2 separate regions of the Homo sapiens genome follow, and region 1 is linked to region 2. The links come from fine-mapping of genetic effects on gene expression. A gene starts in region 2. The other region holds a variant in brackets. All regions are shown on one strand. Distances are from middle to middle.

Evidence for each region. PIP is the estimated chance that this variant, and not a neighbour inherited with it, causes the effect.
Region 1: its variant is fine-mapped to the expression of B3GALT9 in whole blood (INTERVAL, PIP 0.92).

What each region holds. Positions count from the first base shown.
Region 1 is chr9:120,935,053-120,937,964 of GRCh38, reverse strand. No RefSeq gene overlaps it. Among named protein-coding and RNA genes, the nearest start is that of TRAF1, 9.7 kb to the right of the region's middle. The variant G/A (reference allele first, on the strand shown) is at 1,563.
Region 2 is chr9:120,792,104-120,795,015 of GRCh38, reverse strand. B3GALT9 (beta-1,3-galactosyltransferase 9) reads right to left here and starts at 1,549. Exons shown (of 3, transcript NM_001386823.1): 1 at 1,094-1,549. FBXW2 (F-box and WD repeat domain containing 2) reads left to right here and starts at 1,600. Exons shown (of 8, transcript NM_012164.4): 1 at 1,600-1,662; 2 at 1,759-1,867. RefSeq lists enhancers at 587-676, 1,107-1,206, 1,269-1,899.

The sequences.
Region 1 (2,912 bases), 140 kb before region 2:
AAGCTGGGTCTGGAAGAATGACTAAGGTTTGGATACACTGAAATGAAGTTATTTCTGAGAGGAGAAGTAATGTAAGCAAACACCCAGCAGTGGGACTCAAGGGAGGTGCAGACAGAGACCCTTAAGCAGTTTGCTTATATGAGACAAGTGGAAGATAAGGCCAAGCCAGACCAAAAACAAACAAGATAAAGGGTTTGGATGTTTTCCTGCAGGAACTGAGACATTTTGAAAGTTTCTGGACAGCGCTGCAGGATGGAGGATGGATTAGGGAGGGTAGTGACTAACTCTTGGTGAAATGTAGGGTCCCATTAAGAAGAAAAACAAAACAAAAACCTTTCAGGACCTGCTTTCTTTCCCAGAAAAAACCCTGCCCTTTGGAGCCTCTCATGCGTTTGGTTGATAAAGGCATTTGATCCTGTTTTTTACTGTTAAGGGGCCTTGGCACAGCTGCCAGTCCCAGGAGCCTATTCCCAGCTCTGAGTCCTGGTGGGGCTGCTTGACCCATTCCCCTGTGTCCCCTAAAGACTGTGTCCCCCAAAGATTGCTCTCTGGTAGTGTACAAGGAGAAAGGCTTGCCTTTCTGGGCAGCCAGGCCAAGGAACCCTGGCCTCTGATGAGTCCAGCCACAAAGGCTCCACCCTGGGCCCCACTGAACTCAGACCTGCAGCCAAATGGAAAAAATCCAGGAGGCTACGAAGCCAAGAAAAAGAAGATTTGGATTCAAATCCTAGCTCTTCCCCTTCCCTTTCTGACCTTGAGAGACCTCACTGAGCCTCTATGTCTTAATCTGTAAAATGGAAACAAAAGCAACTACCCTACAGGTTTATTTGCCAAGATGAAATGACAGAGATTCATAAGTATACCTTGCACATAGCAGCCATTCAATAAATATTCCTCGCACCTCTTCCCCCAAAATCTCTCTGTGTCTCCATTTCCTCACTTATTAAATGTGATGGAGACCCAAGAATAAAGTTGAATGAGGTGATTTTCCCAAACCTCTGTCATCTGCCCCACACAGAGGCCCTTGGGAGAGCAGAGGGCCTTCATCTGAGCTCTTGAAGCTATTTATTCTTTTATTTTCAAAAACGTAAAAAAAAATCACAAAAGATCCCTTGCTAGTAATAACACTGGCACACACTTGCAATGGGCCAGTATCCTCTAACCTCTCCTCACTACCACCATCTGACTTAGGTTCCCATCTGTAAAGCAGCCTGGGGCAGGTCCCATCTGCAACTGCCCACAAGGTTGGGAGGACAGTGCCCGGCAGAGGGCGCTCCGAGTGTAACCTCCTAGCCAAGGCCCTGGGGGAAGGCAACAGGCCAAGGAAAATTCTGGTGGAAAAAATGAAGAAAGGATTCCAGGTTTATGAGTCTCAGACTTTGAAAAACAAAACTGCTGAGTTGTCTCCTGAGTTAGGAAAAAGAACACCACAGCCGCCTCGAGATTTCCAGGAAACTATTTCTGAAGGCTTTGGGCAAGGCTGGCAGGGGGCTGGCAGGGGAAACTTGGGCTGCCCCAGCTTAGGGTCCAATGCCCTGGCGGGTGGGAGATGGAGGTGGGTG[G/A]TGTGCATGTGGGAACGTCAGTGTGCATGTGTTCTTCAGCATGGTGGGGCTATGTGGGTTTACATGTGCCCTGTCTGTACACGTTTGTATGAGCCTGTGGGTACAATCCCACCAGTACGTATTGAGCACCTTCTGTGCTCTGCTGGGCATAGTGCCAGGTGATGGGATGCACCAGCAAATGAAACACAGTCTCTAAATTCATAAAGCTTAGTTTAGAGAAGGATGCAAAGTAACTGGCAATTTTAATTCAGAGTGCAGGCATCTGGGTGGTGGTTTGTGCAGCGGTTCAGAACACTGGCTTTGTGGTCAGGCAGCCTAGATTTTGACATGATCTTAGAGATCTTTCTGACATTCAGTCTCCTTAGGTGGAAAGTGCAAATATTAAAACCACATCCCGGGAGATACTATGTGTGTGTCAATGTCCAATGAAGGTCTCTATTATGTGTGTGCAGGGTCCACATCTGGATGAACAATGTGAACAGCCCGGGTGAGTTACATGTGGGCACGTTCACACATCTGCTTTTGTTGTGTTTATGGAGTGCCAGGCTCTACCAGAGGTCACAAATAGTGGCCCACAGACACAGTTCATAGGGATGCTCATTTGGTTTGGGTTTATTTTTTGGCTTATAGGGTGTTCTAAAAATCAAGTCGTTTCACATAAAAATCCAGATTTCCAACTTCTTTTGAAATCTTGGGTAAGCCAGCCATCCTGCGAGCATGTGCGTGTGTATGCCTGCCTGCCACAGTCTCTGCTTCCTGATAGATACGTCCTTCCCAGGGGCACCCTCCCCCTTGGCCAGTGTCCAGGGCTGTCCTTGGAGGGGTTCCAAGACTGCTCAGGAGAGCTGGTGTGTAGACATGTTCCCTGTGAAAGGAGAAGCAGGACTGAGCAGGAGCTGGTGCCAGGGCCCCAGGGCTCCCCAAGCAGTTCCAGTTTCAGCAATCACAGGGGCCAGAGAGAGCCATGGGCCCTACCCACAGCTCTCTGGCTGTGCAGCTGGGCACTGGTTACAGAAGATAGTAACCAAGGATGGCAGTAGACAGAATGGCTTTTCTTATCTATTTGATTTTGCATTTTAAAATGTTACAAGTGCACATCTGAAATGATTAAGACAATGATCTCCAGAAAGTGTTGCTAGATATATATGCTAGAATTATTTTTAAAATTTACAAAAAGATTGTAGGCTCATGCCTATAATCCCAGCACTTTGGGAGGCCAAAGCAGGAGGATCACTAAAGCCCAGGAGTTTGAGACCAGCCTGGGTAACATAGTGAGACCCTGTTTCTAAAAAAAAAAAAAAATTTGTTTTTAATTAGCCAGGCGTGGTGGTGCATGCCTGTAGTCCCAGT
Region 2 (2,912 bases):
GGATGCTTGGAACCTTGGCCATGCTCTACCATCTACTGGATATGTGTCTCTCTTATTGTCTATATTATTGGACTGTGCTATCAAGCATGGTAGCCATTAGCCTCATGTGGCTATTAAATTAAAATTAAATAAAATTAAGAATTTAGTTCATTTACATCAGGTACTTTTCAAATGTTCAGTAGCCACAAGAGACTAGTGACTGCCTTATTGGACAGCACCAACAGAACAACTCCATCACTGGCAAAAAGCTTATTGGACAGTGTTGGTATAAGATGTATGTGAATGTGCGTGTATGCATGTATGGCTTAGGAACCCTTACAGAGAAACAAGGATAACTTGTGCGCTGGGCATTGTGGTTCACCCCTGTAATCCCAGCACTTTTTGGGAGGCCCAGGCAGGTGGATCACTTGAGCCTAGGAGTTCAAGACCAGCCTGGGTAACATAGCGAAACCCTGACTCTACAAAAATACACACACACACACACACACACACACACACACACACACACAACTAGCTGGGCATGGTGACACGCGCCTGTGGTCCCTTCTACTCAGGAGGCTGAGGTGGGAGGATCGCTTGAGCCTGGAGAAGTCGAGGCTGCAGTGAGCCAAGATCGTGTCACTGTACTCCAGCCTGGGCGACAGAGTGATACGTTGCCTCAAAAAAAAAAAAAGGATAACTTGTGCTCTGAAGTCGGTTTGGGTTGAAATCCTATGACAGCCATTTACTATGACCTTAGGCAAGATGCCTAAACCTCTTTTGATTTCAGTTTCCCCATCTCTAAAAAGGGGCCTAATAATAGTTACTAGCTTGTGGGGTTGTTGTGGGAACTGAGTGAGATGGTACACAAAAAATGTTGAGAAAGAGTGCGTGGGATTTTTTAGCTCAGTTTTAGTTCTTGACGCCAAAAGGTTTGCATGCTTCATTTCCTTCAATCCTCAGAGCCTTCGGATGGGGACCTCACTATAATTGCTATGCAGATGAAGCAAAGTCTGAGAGGTTAAGTAACCGGGCCACAGCCAGAGTGTAAACGTTGTGATTCATTCAAATCTACATCACTTGACTGTCTCTTTTCATTCAACAACCTCCTTACCTTGCTTTATTTTTCTCCTTTGCACGAGCCTTAGTTTATCTGTCTTCCTCCTCCTAATAGATGTAAGGCCCAGGCGGTCAGGGGCTTTTGCGTTTTTTGTTCACTAACCCTATCCCCTAGAACAGCGTTCGGGATAAAGAGGTGCCCAACAGGTTGTATGAATTTGGACACGTCTCTTAACTTCTCTAAGCCACAGCTCCCTCTCCTCCGTAAAATGAGGATAATAAGAAAAACTACTGCAGAGCTGGTGCAAGATCAGATTGGAGGAGGGACATAAGCGCGCTGTGCAAACCTGGATGTACGGTACGAAAGGAACCTCCGTTCTAGGTTGCACCCAGCCTAAGCACCGTGAGGGCCGCGCGGCACGCGTTCAGCTTCCCGGGACGCTCTTCTCCCCACCCCTACTCCCGGCCTCCAGCCTCCCACCACCCACCTCCGGGCGGGGACCGGAAGTGCAGCCGCTTCCGCCGGGAGCCGCGGAGCTGAGGGACGCGCGGAGATGACGCAGGCAGCACCGGAAGCCGCTCCCCTGTGAGGCTGCGGACCGGGAGCAGCGGCCGCAGGTCCGGGTCTGTATGCGAGGCGGGGCCGGTCGGGGAGGGGACTCTTAGGCGCCCGCGGCTCTGCTGACCCGCCGCGCCTTGGCTGTTTTTCTTTCCCTGCAGGCGCCATGGCTGCGGAGCGGACCCGGCCGCTGCAAGGCTCTGGCGGTCCGAGCGTGCCTAGTAGCTGTGAACCCGGCGCGAGGTCCCGGGCCCCGGGGCGCTCGCTCAGGTCAGTGCCGCGCGGAACACGATTCCGAGAGCAAGGGACCTGGGAGCAACGAATGGGTTGATGGGATCTGGATTTTAGAGACGGGAAAACAGGGTTTTGGAGTTACTGCCTCCTACTGCCTCCATTTCCTTAGCTGCGAAATGAGTTAACAGTGATGTCCCAGGGCTACCAAACGTTTGAAAGACGATGAAGTGTGATGAGGTGGTTTATGAAGTACAAAGCGCTATACTGCGCCATAATTGTGGGTATGCCATGAAAACAGGTGTGTATGTGGGGTGCTGCTTGAAGTAAAGCAAAGATAACAATATTAATGCTAAGTAATAATGGTAACTGACATTTACTGTAGGCTTACAGCGTGCCGAGTACTGTGCTAAACGCTTTACTTGCACTGTCTTGTTTAACCCTCATAAAAACCCTTGTAGGTAATGCTCTTGGCTGTATTTTACAAGTGAGGAAACAGGGCATGAGACAGGTGAAGTGATTTGCCCAAGGTCACCCAGCAACAAGTGGAGTTGCAGAACACATATTTTATAAACATTATTTGTATTCTTTCAAAGCTTTAAAAAAATTCACCTTAAAACTAAAGGCTATTTTTTGATAGTATATTATACTTAACATGGTTTTCAGTTTTAAAAGGTATACAATAAAAAGGGACCCCTCATTCCTATTCTGCAGCTCTCCAGTTCTCTCTGGAGGCAACCAGGGTTATCAGTTTCTTGAATATTCAGAATACATTTTATGCATATGTAAGTTTATAGGTGTGTATACATTTTCAGCGCCTCTGTGCTCTTTGTTTGATAAGAAAAGGGGGAAATGAAGCCTCCTTCCCTCTACCACTAACAATTATGTTGCTTTCACTCTTGACTAGGCCAGGTTCTGATAGAGGAGGAGGGGAAAACACATTTACACTGTTTTCCAGAAGGTCCTGTCTCTAATACCTCTGAGTATAGGTTTTGGGAGAATGGGTACTGGGCAAAATATTGAGCCTGCTACTTCCTGTGCCATTCTGGGAAGGCCACTCCACTTCTTGAGCCGTAAATTTCCT